Regions from separate parts of the Homo sapiens genome. Here region 2 is linked to region 1. Evidence: fine-mapped expression QTL. A gene starts in region 1. The other region holds a variant in brackets. All regions are shown on one strand. Distances are from middle to middle. Region 1 holds the start of SCGB1D2 (secretoglobin family 1D member 2). Region 2 overlaps FADS2 (fatty acid desaturase 2).

What was found. PIP is the estimated chance that this variant, and not a neighbour inherited with it, causes the effect.
Region 2: its variant is fine-mapped to the expression of SCGB1D2 in nucleus accumbens (GTEx, PIP 0.98).

Annotation. Positions count from the first base shown.
Region 1 is chr11:62,237,953-62,246,346 of GRCh38, forward strand. It overlaps SCGB1D2 (secretoglobin family 1D member 2), which reads left to right and starts at 4,287. Exons shown (of 3, transcript NM_006551.4): 1 at 4,287-4,410; 2 at 5,337-5,524; 3 at 6,718-6,860. The coding sequence starts at 4,356. The coding sequence ends at 6,747.
Region 2 is chr11:61,864,213-61,872,470 of GRCh38, forward strand. FADS2 (fatty acid desaturase 2) reads left to right here. Exons shown (of 12, transcript NM_004265.4): 11 at 940-1,065; 12 at 1,426-3,142. The coding sequence ends at 1,477. Among named protein-coding and RNA genes, the nearest start is that of MIR6746, 9.9 kb to the right of the region's middle. The variant G/A (reference allele first, on the strand shown) is at 4,980.

The DNA of each region.
Region 1 (8,394 bases):
CTCTGCTCATGGCTGGGGAAGGGCAGAGGAGTTGTCCCCATGGGCTGCTTTGCTGCTGGGACCCTGGGAACTCAGAAGCTCTGAACCTCCTAATTAGAAGAGAAACTAAACAGGAGCTCCTATTAGTCAATATAGAGCTTGGTGAGTTGATATTAAATTTCCCTGAAATTGTTTTAGAAGTCTTGGCTTCCACTAGAAGATTAGGAGTTGGAGTGGTTGATGCGGCAAAATCCTCGTTTCACTGTTCTCTCTAGGGATGTGGAAAACCGATGAGTTTCTTTCACAGTCACCACCACACTACTCATCTTTCACCCTCAACTGCCCACAGGGAAGCCTGGCACCATGAGCATTCTTTTACACTGAACATGAATGTCACCCATTTAGCAGTTTGTTGATTCATAATTTTATGATGTATTTGTTAAAAGATTGTTTGCTGATCTTCTTCTCCATGCCAGCCGCTGTGCTGAGCCAAGATGAGCAAAAGCAGATACTGGCCCTGTGATTATGGAGCTAACAGTCCAGGAAAACTTGTATCCATGAACTGATTACACATTTGTAAAATAACAGCCTTGGAATTGCTGCAAATGAGAGGTGCATGGTTCCAGCAGTGTCTGTAAAGGGCAACACTGACCAAAGCATCGGGGTCAGGCAACAATGCCCGTGGGTGGAAAGAATGAACTGAAATATTGCATGAACTCGGTAAGGAGGAGGGACCCATTAAAAATATCAATGATGAAAACTAAAAAACCCTGTGCAGGTGTTAAGGGCAATAGGAATGATAAAAGTACAAGCAAACAGTCCTCTCTCAGAGATACACATCCTCCCCGGTGGACCATAGAGCTGACAAGGTGAATGCCAAGCCTGTGCCAGGACAAGCTCTGGTCCACAGTTAGGATGAATGCCTCACAGACCTGTCTGCTGTGAAAGACGTCTCAGTCCTGAAGCCCAAGTCCATGGGTCTGTAGACTCAGAGATCATGAACTGGATTTCTTTTTCCATTTATGTCAGAGAGAAATGGTGTATCTAGGTGTCCATGTAGTTCTGAAAGTAGGTGATTTAGTGGATTTTGGCTGTGCTCTAAACTAGGAACTACTGGCAAACCATGACATATATGACAAGTGGGACAAGATAATGGGAGTTAGAATTTATTGAGAACTACTATGTACCAGAACTTAGTTAACTTTAAACACACACACCCCCATGAACACACTCATTTGATCATCTATGAACCCAATGATGTAGGCACAATTACTAGCCTACTTTGACAAATAGGAAAACTGAGGTTACATAAGCTGAATAATTTTCTTAAGGTCCAAGAGCCCACAAATGAGGCTGTATCTGTGAGCCTTGTATCTGTGAGCCTCACCACTGGCCCTCCCACTCCTTGGTGGTGGCGGAAGAGCTGGCTCAGGGATTTCCTCATGATCCTGTGTGATGGAAGTGACAGCCACTGTTGCCCTCAGCTGGGGCTCAAACAAACCTGCCAAGTTGTCTCTGATGACACAGCCCATAAGGTCCCCTCTTTACATACATGTCTTTCTGTGTGGTTTTCAGCCCTCCTGCCCATCAGAAACACCAGAGCAGTTTAAACAGTGTAGGAATCAGGGAGTCAACCCAACGCTACTGAATCAAAATCCCCAGAGAGAGAAACCTGGGGAGTCAGTATATTTTAAAAGCTCCAAGTGATTCGATTGCGCAGCTGCGAATGGAAAGCTCGGGCCTAGGCTGTGAATCCTCTCAAAAGTAAGTTCATTTAAGAGAGAAATTTCTTGATGTGTTGCTGGATTCGGTTTGCCAGTATTTTATTGGGGATTTTTGCATCGATGTTCATCAGGGATATTGGTCTATAATTCTCTTTTTTTGTTGTGTCTCTGCCAGTCTTTGGTATCAGGATGGTGCTGGCCTCATAAATTGAGTTAGGGAGGATTCCCTCTTTTTCTATTGATTAGAATAGTTTCAGAAGGAATGGTACCAGCTCCTCCTTGGACCTCTGGTAGAATTCGGCTGTGAATCCATCTGGTCCTGGACTTTTTTTGGTTGGTAGGCTATTAATTATTGCCTCAATTTCAGAGCCTGTTATTGGTCTATTCAGAGATTCAACTTCTTCCTGGTTTAGTCTTGGGAGGGTGTATGTGTCGAGGAATTTATCCATTTCTTCTAGATTTTCTAGTTTATTTGCATAGAGGTGTTTATAGTATTCTCTGACGGTAGTTTGTATTTCTATGGGATCGGTGGTGATATCCCCTTTATCATTTTTTATTGTATCTATTTGATTCTTCTCTCTTTTTTTCTTTATTAGTCTTGCTAGTGGTCTATCAATTTTGTTGCTCTTTTCAAAAAACCAGCTCCTGGATTCGTTGATTTTTTGAAGGGTTTTTTGTGTCTCTATCTCCTTCAGTTCTGCTCTGATCTTAGTTATTCAATGCCTTCTGCTAGCTTTTGAATATGTTTGCTCTTGCTTCTCTAGTTCTTTTAATTGTGATGTTAGGGTGTCAATTTTAGATTTTTCCTGCTTTCTCTTGTGGGCATTAAACTTATCCACCATGATCAATTGGGCTTCATCCCTGGGATGCAAGGTTGGTTCAACATACGTAAATCAATAAATGTAATCCAGCATATAAACAGAACCAATGAAAAAATCACATGATTATGTAAACTAGTTCAACCATTGTGGAAGTCAGTGTGGCGATTCCTCAGGGACCTTGAACTAGAAATACCATTTGACCCAGCGATCCCATTACTGGGTATATACCCAAAGGATTATAAATCATGCTGCTATAAAGACGCATGCACACGTATGTTTATTGCAGCACTATTCACAATAGCAAAGTCTTGGAACCAACCCAAATGTCCAACAATGATAGACTGGATTAAAAAAATGTGGCACATATACACCACGGAATACTATGCAGCCATAAAAAATGATGAGTTCATGTCCTTTGTAGGGACATGGATGAAGCTGGAAACCATCATTCTCAGCAAACTATCGCAAGGACAAAAAAACAAACACCGCGTGTTCTCACTCATAGGTGGGAATTGAACAATGAGAACACATGGACACAGGAAGGGGAACAGCACACACCAGGGACTGTTGTGGGGTGGGGGGAGGGGGGAGGGATAGCATTAGGAGATATACCTAATGTTAAATGATGAGTTAATTGGTGCAGCACACCAACATGGCACATGTATACATATGTAGCTAACCTGCACGTTGTGCACACGTACCCTAAAACTTAAAGTATAATAACAAAAAAGAGAGAGAAATTTCTAGTGATTGATTTCCTGCTCACACCACACAAAGGCATCACAGCAGGAGGGCAGGAGGGTGTGTATTGCTTTGTCTGGGTGCTTCCTTCCCTTTCTATTAAAAATGGGATTGGCTCAGGCTGCACAGCTAGATTTGAAGTGGAAAACTTGAGCCTAGAGGTTGGGGGGAAGTGACCACTCACCCTGATCATCTGTCTCTTCTTTTCCATCTTCTTCCCCTCCTGGAGCCCCAGAGCAAAGAACTCTCAGTACCTGTCCGATGCATGATTGGCTCTGGACACTCCAAAAGCTACTTGGAAAAAGTTAGGCTATGTAATCATCAGGTCAACCCATCAACATGTGGGTGGCTACACATCACAGAAAGCTTGCTCCTCGTAGAGAGAAAATGTGAGTCTTGGCCATATTTATAGCTGCACTCATAAACAAGACTCAGGTTTGGGAGTGAGACAGGCTAGAGAACAGGTGCAGCAGTTGCTTTTCCCCAGGAAATCCTCCAAAGGTAAGATGCATTGAACTAGGTTTTAGGTACCTATGCAGTGAACATGGTGGTGATGGGAGGGGCTGAGGGGAATAGGTCTTGTTTAGACTTGCTCAATGTGCAACTGAAACAAGCCTACTGGTTGTCAGACATGCAGGGGGATCAAAGCAGGGTTTCCTTATGTCCCTGCTCCCCCATAACCAGAACACAGCCTTCCAGCTTCCTGTGCCTTCCAAAGTCAGAATTTACCTGTGCCCTTGAACTGATACAAAGAAAAAAAATAATCAGCAAAACTCAGAAGGAAACAGAATCCCAGGAATATTTCCAGAGGTGCCTGAACATTCACCTGGAACACAGAGCAGAGTTCCTGCAGGGCTACCCTCCTGTGCTCTGCCCCAGTCAGAGTGCAGGGAGGCGTGGGGAGGTGACACAGATGGATGGCAACAGCCCTGGGAAGGAGAGGTGGGCTGGGAGCCAGGCCTCATGACCAGTACCAGCTAGACTCCCTAGGTACAAATAGCCCTGGGCTCTGCAGCTCCACAGGCTCCTGGGGTGGAGTCCAAATCACTCATTGTTTGTGAAAGCTGAGCTCACAGCAAAACAAGCCACCATGAAGCTGTCGGTGTGTCTCCTGCTGGTCACGCTGGCCCTCTGCTGCTACCAGGGTGAGTACATCAGTCATGAGTCTAGCTCCAGCCCCTGGGAAGCACCCTCTTCCAAGCACGAGGTCACCTATTCAGGCTGGGGTTAGGATCTGCACAAAACCAAAATTCCAAACCTTTTTCTGTGCTTGTTGAACAAGCCCCTCATCAAGTTCAGAGCTATTTCTTCTACTCCCCAGCACCTACGAAGTTTTATTGAAAATCAGTGCAGGCAAATATTAGGAATTCTTCTGCCTGAGCTTCACTCCTGGGTGGGATCTGTGTCAGATGATGTAATGTGAGGTCTGGGGTGAATCTGGGATCCGCCACTTCCCAGCCCTTTGACCTTGGGCACAATGCTCACCCTCCCTGAGCCTCCTCCTATCACTGGTAGTTAGCGCTTCTGCCAGGAGAGGCTATGAGAATGGAGTAAGAAAGATTAATACTGTCAAAAGAGTCTAGCTGTGGGCTAAGCATGGCGGCTCATGCCTGTAATCCTAGCACTTTGGAAGGTCAAGGAGAGTGAATTGCTTGAGCTCAGGAGTTTGAGTCCGGCCTAGGCAACGTGGCGAAACTCCAGCTTTACCAAAAGAAATATGAAAAATCAGCTGGACGTGGTGACATGCACCAGTAGTCTCAGCTACTTAGGGGGCTGAGATGGGGATATCGCTTGAGCCCAGGAGGTAGAGGCTGCAGTGAGCCATGATTGAGCTACTGAATTCCAGCCTGGGTGACAAAGGGAAAAAAAAGAGTTTGGCTGTTGATATGAAGTGCTTTCCTTTATTGTGAGAGCTTGAGGAAGTCACACCTGAAGGGTCTGGCATTGTCATCAGCACAACAAATGTATGTGAACATATAACCCAGGGGATCCTGTCTGGTCTAACGTCAGGGAGCCAAAGAGAAAAATCGACTTTCCTAACATCAACTATATTTTTATTCTTTTGCTGCAGCCAATGCCGAGTTCTGCCCAGCTCTTGTTTCTGAGCTGTTAGACTTCTTCTTCATTAGTGAACCTCTGTTCAAGTTAAGTCTTGCCAAATTTGATGCCCCTCCGGAAGCTGTTGCAGCCAAGTTAGGAGTGAAGAGATGCACGGATCAGATGTCCCTTCAGAAACGAAGCCTCATTGCGGAAGTCCTGGTAACTTCTTTCTCCTTTATTTGTTAAGGCTTCTGGTCAGCTGCACAGTATGAAGTGAGGTCAGCTTGCTGCTCTGTTGGGGACACAGGTGGTGGGGCAGCTGCCTTGCTGGTCACCTCTTGAGAAGGTCACCTGGGGCCACAGGGTGGGTGCCACCATTTCACCTGCAGAATTCAACTCAGCTGCACACAGCCTCCTGCATGTTCCTCCTTCTCATGTCACCTGCCTGGATGCCATGTCCCCAGAGTGTGCTGAGGACATGGGGAGTGAGCCTGGGCCCAGGCAGAAATGGTAAAGGGCCAAGCATGGCCGCCTCGCTGCTGGGAGCTTTCCTGAGACCAAACTGCCCTCATGTAATGGACACAGTCACTGTGGAATGTCCTGGGGAGCATGGGAGCCTTGAACAGGGAGAGGAAGGCAGGGAGGGACATAGAGCAGGGGCTCCTGCAGATGTAGCACTGGCAGGCTGGACTTCTCTGCAGCTTCTGCAGAGCCAGGAAGGAGCCCCTCCCAGCTCCTGAGACCCCATACTCCCCTCCACACCCACGACACTCTCCTGACCATGGCCAGTCGTCCAAGACCCTAGCTAGTCTACCTCCTGCAGTGCCATGGAAGCGGGATGTTCTCACTCTGTCTTTCTCAAGAAATCAGAGGTTTTCCAGGGGCCTCTCTGCCTGGCTGCCTCTGAGTTGCTGTCCTGAGGTTTAGCTGCAAATGCTCATGGAAGCTGCAGGCTCGGGACTGAGAGGTGCTCGGGCCCTGAGGCAGAATTCCCACATGGGGAGGCTGGAGTCTCCTGGAAGCCAAGCTTCCCAGAAGCCCTCTCAGCCCTGACCAGCCTCTCAGTCCTGGGTCCCTCACTGCAGGAACCAGGAGACTCCAAGCCCTGGGACAGCCCAGGCAATAACCTCTTGCTGCTCTCTCCAACCCTCGTCACTTGCTTCCATGAGGATCCTGGGCCTCATTCCCGGATCACCCCAGGGCTATTGGCCTGGCAAGAAAAGGCTGCTCCATCACCGGCATGGGTGCTGTGAGGCCACCAGGTCTAGGCCTCAGTTTCCCAAACTGAGTTGTTGCCTCTGCCCTTCCAATTGCCTTTGGGGGCAGAATCCCACTGGCCTCTTGGATGTGAGCCTGTCACCTCCAGCAGCAGCATGACTGACCCCACCTTCTTTTTTCTTTTCCTATTTTAGGTGAAAATATTGAAGAAATGTAGTGTGTGACATGTAAAAACTTTCATCCTGGTTTCCACTGTCTTTCAATGACACCCTGATCTTCACTGCAGAATGTAAAGGTTTCAACGTCTTGCTTTAATAAATCACTTGCTCTCCACGTCTCCACTGGTCTTGTTATAATCCTGCAGTCTCGAGCCTTGAGTACAGGGTGGTTTCCATAGTGGAGTGGCCTTTTGCTGTGGGTGATAATTAACTCCAGAGAACCAGCATCCTGTTACTAATGGGGCCTGAGTCCAGGTGTCACAGAGGAGAATATTTGGTAGGAATTATCCTGCATTCCTTACAGATTTCCCATCTTGCAGCCGTGAATAAAAACCATGGTAACAAGGACACAGGAATTGAAATGTTCCACTGGTCTTACACTGAGAGAACCCCCAGCCTGAATGGGTATCCAGGCCGAGGGTTCCCACCTATCAGTGACTTTACTCTGATGTCCCCTCAGACCCACAGTCAGCCTGCTTGGTGCTCTCTCTGCACTATGCTTTCTGTCCTCCGTCATGTCCAGTATACTTCATTTTCCACTTATCACAATTTGGGGTCCTCTTTAGGTTTCAACCTGGAGTTCACATTGTTTTACTCCCCACGCTCAGAGCACTCCTCAGCGTCTGCATCACTCACCAGCACCTGAGGTGAATGCTTCCTTCCTCAAGCTCTCCCAAGAGCTCCAGAGACCAGCACCCCCTGACAACTGGACAGCTCCCAGTGCGCACTCCACAGTCATTTCAGGAGCAGGATGTAAAACTGAGCACAGGGTCTGCCCCCAGCCTGCTCTCCCTTCCATGAGCCCATCCAGGCTAAGGCACCCACCCAGCAAGCACCCTGACCAGGACACAGAGAGACACCACAGTTTCCCTGCTTGGTGTCCTGTGACTACTGGAACAAAAATCTGCAAACTTCATGGCTTAAAACGACTGATTCTCAGGCATCTCTGGGGGTCAGAAGTCCAACATTAGTATCACTGTGAAGACGTTAGGGGGCAGCAGGGCTCCGCTCCCTCTGGGGACTCTTGGGGGGAATTCACTAAGGGTTGCTTCTGGCTTCTGGGCTAATAATTGTCCTGGTCCTGTGGCCACATCACTCCAACCTCTGCCTCCATGATATGTTCCCTTCTTTTCTTTCTACATCAACCCCACCCACCTTGGCTTTTTTTTTTTTTTTTTTTTGAGAAGGAGTCTCGCTCTGTCGCCCAGGCTGGAGTGCAGTGGCACCATTTCGGCTCACTGCAAGCTCCACCTCCCGGGTTCACGCTGTTCTCCTGCCTCAGCCTCCCGAGTAGCTGGGACTACAGGCGCCCGCCACCATGCTCGGCTAATTTTTTGTATTTTTAGTAGAGATGGGGTTTCACCGTGTTAGCCAGGATGGTCTTGATCTCCTGACCTCGTGATCCACCCACCTCGGCCTCCCAAAGTGCTGGGATTACAGACGTGAGCCACCACCCTGACTTTTAATCACAAAATACACAGGTTTGGTTTTGGGACCCTGCAGATTATTCAGAATAACACCCCATCTCATTATGTTTGATCGTGTCTGCCAAGTGCTTTTTTTGTCATATAATGGAACATTCACAGATTTCAGGAACTAGGATGTGGGTATCTTTCAGGGTGGACATGAGGCAGCCAATGACAGCTCCCCTCC
Region 2 (8,258 bases), 370 kb before region 1:
AAAAATGTAGAGACAGAGTCTCACCCTGTTTCCTGGGCTGGAGTGCAGTGGTGCTTTCTTGGCTCACTGCAGCCTCGAACGCCTGAGCTAAAGTCATCCTCCCACCTCAGCCTCCTGAGTAGCTGGGACTGCAGGTGCGTGCCACCATGCCCAACTAATTTTTTCTTTTTTTTTTTACTTTTATTTATTTATTTATTTTGAGACAGAATCTCACTCTGTTGCCCAGACTGGAGGGCAGTGGCGCAATCTCGGCTCACTGCATCCTCCACCTACCAGGTTCAAGCAATTCTCAGGCCTCAGCCTCCCACGTAGCTGGGATTACAGGCGTGTGCCACCACGCCCAGCTAATTTTTGTATTTTTTAGTGGAGACGGGGTTTCACCATGTTGGCCAGGCTGGTCTCAAACTCCTAGCCTCAAGTGATCCACCTGCGTTGGCCTCCCAAAGTGCTGGGATTACAGGTGTGAGCCACTGCACCTGGCCTAATTTTTTATTTTTATTTTTTGTAGAGAAGAGGTCTTGCCGTGTCGCCCAGGCTGATCTCAAACTTCTGGCCTCAAGTGATCTGCCTGCCTCGGCCTCCCAAAATGCTGGGATTACAGGCGTGAGCCACCGTGCCTCACCTCACTGCCTCTTTTCCTAGCATTCCCCAGCTATTTCATTTCTTTTTTGAAAAACATGACACTTTGTCTCTGGCCACCCAATATCTTCCCAGCTCCATAGAGCACAAACGCCCTCCTGCTCACGGAGGGCTGCACCCTCCCCTCCACACACGTGGCACCCCACTGGGCACACACGAGGAGCCACACTTTGAGACTGGTCCTGGCTGTGGACAGGGTCTCTGAGGGCCCCAGCCAGCCTCTGCCCAGGTGGTGGGAGGAAGCGGGAGCAGCATGGCCCTCTGAGTCCTCACGCTCTGCCCACCCTACACACTCCTCAGCCTCTTCCCCACCATGCCCCGGCACAACTTACACAAGATCGCCCCGCTGGTGAAGTCTCTATGTGCCAAGCATGGCATTGAATACCAGGAGAAGCCGCTACTGAGGGCCCTGCTGGACATCATCAGGTGAGGGGTGGAGGTCCACAGGCGCTGGGCCCTGGGATCACCCGTGGTGCAGACAGTGGGATCACAAGAGGGGCTGGGCCCTCCTGGCACAGTCACCCACCAGGGCACCTGCCTTACTCCCGAGCCTGTGTTAGGAGCTGTTGGGCTTTTCTCCCTGGGCTGCGAGAAGACCATCCCTTTCTGTGTGGGGTTCCTGGTGGGCTCTGAGCTGACAGCCCCACAGGCCCAGTGGCAGTGGTAAGCCCTGGTTAGGGCCAAGGGGACATACATGCCACCTTAATGATGGCCTCCTCAGCCCTTGCACTCCCTGGGGCCACTCCCGTCCTGGTCCCTGACCCTGGTCCATCCCCAACTTTGCAGGTCCCTGAAGAAGTCTGGGAAGCTGTGGCTGGACGCCTACCTTCACAAATGAAGCCACAGCCCCCGGGACACCGTGGGGAAGGGGTGCAGGTGGGGTGATGGCCAGAGGAATGATGGGCTTTTGTTCTGAGGGGTGTCCGAGAGGCTGGTGTATGCACTGCTCACGGACCCCATGTTGGATCTTTCTCCCTTTCTCCTCTCCTTTTTCTCTTCACATCTCCCCCATAGCACCCTGCCCTCATGGGACCTGCCCTCCCTCAGCCGTCAGCCATCAGCCATGGCCCTCCCAGTGCCTCCTAGCCCCTTCTTCCAAGGAGCAGAGAGGTGGCCACCGGGGGTGGCTCTGTCCTACCTCCACTCTCTGCCCCTAAAGATGGGAGGAGACCAGCGGTCCATGGGTCTGGCCTGTGAGTCTCCCCTTGCAGCCTGGTCACTAGGCATCACCCCCGCTTTGGTTCTTCAGATGCTCTTGGGGTTCATAGGGGCAGGTCCTAGTCGGGCAGGGCCCCTGACCCTCCCGGCCTGGCTTCACTCTCCCTGACGGCTGCCATTGGTCCACCCTTTCATAGAGAGGCCTGCTTTGTTACAAAGCTCGGGTCTCCCTCCTGCAGCTCGGTTAAGTACCCGAGGCCTCTCTTAAGATGTCCAGGGCCCCAGGCCCGCGGGCACAGCCAGCCCAAACCTTGGGCCCTGGAAGAGTCCTCCACCCCATCACTAGAGTGCTCTGACCCTGGGCTTTCACGGGCCCCATTCCACCGCCTCCCCAACTTGAGCCTGTGACCTTGGGACCAAAGGGGGAGTCCCTCGTCTCTTGTGACTCAGCAGAGGCAGTGGCCACGTTCAGGGAGGGGCCGGCTGGCCTGGAGGCTCAGCCCACCCTCCAGCTTTTCCTCAGGGTGTCCTGAGGTCCAAGATTCTGGAGCAATCTGACCCTTCTCCAAAGGCTCTGTTATCAGCTGGGCAGTGCCAGCCAATCCCTGGCCATTTGGCCCCAGGGGACGTGGGCCCTGCAGGCTGCAGGAGGGCACTGGAGCTGGGAGGTCTCGTCCCAGCCCTCCCCATCTCGGGGCTGCTGTGTGGACGGCGCTGCCTCAGGCACTCTCCTGTCTGAACCTGCCCTTACTGTGTTTAACCTGTTGCTCCAGGATGCATTCTGATAGGAGGGGGCGGCAGGGCTGGGCCTTGTGACAATCTGCCTTTCACCACATGGCCTTGCCTCGGTGGCCCTGACTGTCAGGGAGGGCCAGGGAGGCAGAGCGGGAGGGAGTCTCAGGAGGAGGCTGCCCTGAGGGGCTGGGGAGGGGGTACCTCATGAGGACCAGGGTGGAGCTGAGAAGAGGAGGAGGTGGGGGCTGGAGGTGCTGGTAGCTGAGGGGACGGGCAAGTGAGAGGGGAGGGAGGGAAGTCCTGGGAGGATCCTGAGCTGCTGTTGCAGTCTAACCCACTAATCAGTTCTTAGATTCAGGGGAAGGGCAGGCACCAACAACTCAGAATGGGGGCTTTCGGGGAGGGCGCCTAGTCCCCCCAGCTCTAAGCAGCCAGGAGGGACCTGCATCTAAGCATCTGGGTTGCCATGGCAATGGCATGCCCCCCAGCTACTGTATGCCCCCGACCCCCGCAGAGGCAGAATGAACCCATAGGGAGCTGATCGTAATGTTTATCATGTTACTTCCCCACCCCTACATTTTTTGAAATAAAATAAGGAATTTTATTCTCACTTCCTGTGTTTCCTGCACGCCAATGCCAGGCCATGGTATTGGGTGATAGATGAGGCCCTTCTAGCTGGGCCTGGGCACCAGGAGGGGTCCCCATGCTTGCATCTCTCTGTATCCCCTCCCTCCCCTGTGGCCATCCCACCCGCCTCTCCCTGCTGCCTCTGAAATTCATTCTGGGGCCCGGAACTTGGTGGAAATGACCCAAAAACATTGGCCCATCTTCCTCCTCTCAGCAGCCGACCCCAGCCCAATTCTAAAACAGGGCTGAGAGCCACCTCTCAGCAGCTGACCCCTACCCAAGGAGGGTGGCATGGAGGGGCTTGCAGAGACTCTTCCTAACATCCTCCCCCCCCAGCTGTCTCCCCAAGTGCAATCTGCCCTCCCATCCCTGGGCCAGCCAGCTTCCACAGAGCGCCAGGCCAAACAGAATTCCTGGCCTCCTTGGAAGGGGCTGGAGAAGGCCGGGAGCGGTGGCTCATGCCTGTAATCCCAGCACTTTGGGAGGCTGAGGCGGGCAGATCACAAAGTCAAGAGATTGAGACCATCCTGGCCAACATGGTGAAACCCCGTCTCTACTAAAAATACAAAAATTAGGCCGGGTGCGGTGGCTCACGCCTGTAATCCCAGCACTTTGGGAGGCCGAGGCGGGCAGATCACGAGGTCAGGAGATCAAGACCATCCTGGCTAACACGGTGAAACCCCGTCTCTACTAAAAATACAAAAATTAGGCCGGGTGCGGTGGCTCACGCCTGTAATCCCAGCACTTTGGGAGGCCGAGGCGGGCAGATCACGAGGTCAGGAGATCAAGACCATCCTGGCTAACACGGTGAAACCCCGTCTCTACTAAAAATACAAAAAATTAGCCGGGCGAGGTGGCGGGTGCCTGTAGTCCCAGCTACGTGGGAGGCTGAGGCAAGAGAATGGCGTGAACCCCGGCGGGGCAGAGCCTGCAGAGAGCTGAGATCACACCACTGTACTCCAGCCTGGGCAACAGCGAGACTCCGTCTCAAAAAAAAAAAAAAAAAAAAAATTAGCTGGGCATGGTGGTGCGTGCCTGCAGTCCCAGCTACTCAGGAGGCTGAGACGGGAGAATCGCTTGAACCTGGGAGGCAGAGGTTGCAGTGAGCCAAGATCGCTCACTCCAGCCTAGCGACAGAGTGAGACTCCGTCTCAAATAAATAAATAAATAAATAAATTAAATTAAATTAAAAGGGGGCTGAAGAAGGCTCTGGAGGCTGATGATTCTTTTTGTGGCTCCCGTGCCCATATATGCAATGGCTCATTCAGAACCCACAGGCTGTGGGGGGGGCTGATATCATCCTAGCCCAGGGTCACCAGTTCATAGGCACAGAGATTGGATCCTAGGTCTGTCTGACCCCAGAGGCTGGGAAGAGTCTAAAGCAACATGCCAGGGGCACTTGTACAGTCGGCCTCCCATGGACCCCCATGCTGCTCCGTCATCATCTCTGGGCTGGCTTTCCTGGCAGGGCTGATCCTGGGAAAGTGCCAAGGAAGGGCCAAGAGGCACTGGCTAGTTAACACCTTGGGGCCTCCCCTTGGCTTTGTAGCTGCTCCCAGCAGGGCTGGGGAGGGCTCCTGAGTAGACCTCAGCCCCCGCCTGCTTCCCCTGACCCCCGCTTTGCCTGGCCGAAATCCAGCCAGGTAGGGACAGCCAGCAGACTGGCTGGGGTACGTATGGCTCCCCAGTGGCCACAGGGTGTCCTGAGTAGGGCCTGGCATTACAGAAGCCCTGAGCGAGGTGGCCGACTCACCCCAGATTCACCAAGTGGCTCTGGGGAGTCCTTTGCCCTCCCTGGCCCTGTGGGCCATAGTCCACAG[G/A]GGCAGGCTAGAGGGGCCCCAAGGATGCCATTATCTCAACACCCGCTTACCCTAGGCCTTGCCCTCCTGGTGGACCCGCTGGCAGTGGCCTTCAAGGTTACAAGACCCTGGCAGGCACGGCTCCCACCCTCTGCCCTGTGCCTGTGACCCGCCTCCAGGATGGCGACCAGCCCAGGCCTCCCAACCCTACCAGTTGGAAATCCATGGGTCCATCACCCATAACAACCAGGGGGCTTGGAATTGGGGATACTGGAGGCCAGATGGACGCTGGGGCTATGAGGGCACCAGATAAATCTTGGCCTAGCCTCACCGGGCACTTGGAGCTTCTCTGACTTCCCCAGCCCCACCCAGCCCCGCCTTGCCCTTGAATACTTCCCTGGGTCAAGAAGCTGAGGACATTCATATCTGCTCTCTGCTTAACCGCCCCCTCCTGTCCCTGTACTCAGCTGACCCCCTTGCCAACACACCCAGAATTGTGAGTTTCTAATCCCTATCCCCTGCCAAAGTCATGGTGCCCCAATATTCAAGGCCCTGAGCAATCAAACCCCAACACCACCATCATGGGCGAAGAGGCTGAGCCCAGAGAGAGGACAGGACTGCGCAGGCCACACAGCAGCAGGACCCTGCTCCTAACCCGCAGGCTCCTGGCCACCTCTCCTGCACAGAAAGGGCTGGTTCCCAGACCCTGCCCCCATCACGTCAAATGTCAGACAGCTCCCAGGAGGCCCAGCGGCTGGCTGGAGGAGTGGGGGCAGTGGAGGGCAGTTAGTCTCTGAGGAGGAGATAAGGGCAGTGTAGCTACGCAGATAAAAGGGTATCAGCTTTGTGGGTAGCGGGGACATCTGCAGCGCCCCAAGTCTAAGCTGTGTGTGTGTGGGGCGGGGGAGGGTGCTGTGGCACCACAGGCGGATCCTCGGGGTGTCTGGCTGGACACTCCGAAGCCCTCGTGCCTACTCGGAGGGGAGAGGAAGCCTTTACCAAGCTGGACCAGGGCAGAGCTGGCAGCCACTGGGGCTGGGCTTGGGCTGCCATCAGGAGTGGCTGGCCATTGCTTATGTGACACAGTGCCTTGGGCCCATCGGGACTCCTCAGCGAGCCAGGCTGCACCCTCCCCCGAGAGGTGTGCCCCTCTGGCCAAAGAAGCTGCCTCTCAAAGAGTCCCTGTTCCAACATCTGAGAGGGAAATGGGGCGCCGTGGGGATGGCTTGCCCCAGGCTGAAACGCCACTGCCCTCGGGACTGGTTTTCCTTTTCTCAGCAGACTGGCTTCATGTGGCCAGTGCATACACGGAACAAGCAGCCCCCCAGCGTGCTGAGATTTCAGGATCACGTCCCCATCGTCCTCCACCATCACAAACACTTTGCTTTGGATTTTAAAGGCGTTCAGGTCTTTCTTCTAAATCGTCCCATTCAAGAGCAAGTGTCCAAGAGAAAGAGTGACAGCAGCCAAGAGCTTGGAATAGGCCAAGCTCCCAGTAGTTGTGGTGGCTCATTGCCTGAGGACATAGTGTGGTGGGGGGAGGAACCTTGAGAAACCCATGGCCTGTCCCGTCACAAAAGAGTTTGTTGACGCCCTGCTCCCCTCCAGCTACTCCCAACACACCAGGCAGGGGCTGGCTCTTGGGCATCATCATTTCCAACATCTGCCTGGGCTGGGAGACCCGTAGCAAATGTTGATGATCAAAGGAACAAACCAACACTGCGGTTATGGTTTCCCTCGGGAGCTGTTTTTCCTCCGGGCCCACGCCTCTTGTACAGACAATAAAAAAGGAACACGGTTTCTCAGAGGTTCAGAGGTTCCACCAAAGCCTCTTTCCTTTTACAAACCTGGCCCCTGTGCCCTAAGCCTTTGTTCTGAGACTAGGAGACCTACAGATGGAGAAGGGGGAGCTCAGCTCAGGACTGAGGGTGACCTGTTCCCAGGGGATCTAGCATGGGGGACAGTGGGACAAGAGCAAAGATTCCCCTGCCAGTGATGGGTCCCAGGTGGTCTGGAGAAATCTAGGAGTGGCTGCTGAAGGCGGGGCCTCCCAGGGGTCCGCAAAGCAAGTTACCAGGGACAGTAGGGAGCACGGCCCGCCCCACACTGGCGCAGATGCTCCGGGCGCCCCTGGGTGGCGCTGCAGGCTCAGCTGTCGTGGATCCTCGGTGTTAGCATCTCCCTGGCGAGCGCCTCGGAGCCAGCGCACAGCGATCTCTACCAGGGTGTGGACGGAGGGAATGCCATTCGGAGCCTGCGCTGGCTCAGGGCGCCCGCGTGGCACTAGGAGCCAACAGGATTTAAACAGGCGGTGACAGGAAGGGGGAGTCCCTGCAGAGGGACCAGCCTGTGCAGAGACCCTGAATGCAAGGCACGCCCTGGCCATGAGAAGCGTGTGTCTGAGGCAGGAAGTACCTTTCAAGGAGCATCCAATCTTACCCTCGGCTGAAAACTGAGGCTCAGGGAAGGCAAAAAAGAACTTGCCCTAGGTGACAGAGCAAATGGTCATCCTGGGGAATTGGGTTGTGTGCACAAAATTTGTGAATAAACTGAGCCTGCTGCTGTGCCCTTTGCTAAGAGCCTTTCTTCCATCACCCTAGGTACTGCTGCTCGGGGTCAAGGAACTCCCCCAAGGTCACACAGCCTGCGTCCTGGCAGAAACAGGACTTGCCCCCACCCCACCCCACCCCCAAGTCTGTCTGACTTGAGTGGATCCGGTGGGGCTGGGTGGCACCCGGAGGAGGGCAGGCATCTCACTCACAACCAAGCTGAAGGGGCTGCCACCCTCTGCTTCCCTGGCCCTACCAGGAGGCCTCTGCTGGCACTGCCCTGGGCCGGGAGGCCATAGGGAGCTTTGGGCTGTCTGCTCCTGGGTCTGGGAGATTATGTGAGCCGAACAGGACCTCCCCCAGTGCTCTCCTGCCCCAGAAGTCAGGGTGAGGGAAGCAGGACCCAAACACCCTGTCTGTCATCCTCTCAGAAAACACACCCCAGGGTCTCCCGGGCCAGGCTCTGGGCTGCCACCAGCCTCCAGCAGCAAATGATGTCAGTATTCCAGGTGCCGTCACAGAGACCCTAGTCACAGGCTGGGCAGGGAAGGGGAGGAGCCCTGCGGGTCAGAGAGAACTTTCTAGAAGGGGAGCCCCTGGGAAGAGCCGCAAGAGTCCATGGGAATGTGCAGACGGCCCCTCCTCACAGAGAGGAAGCAGGTGTGAGACTACGGTGATCAGCTTTAGCACTGAGGAGCTTTCTGGCTGTCTCGGAAGAGAAGTTCATGGGCAGCAACACTCAGCGCCACCT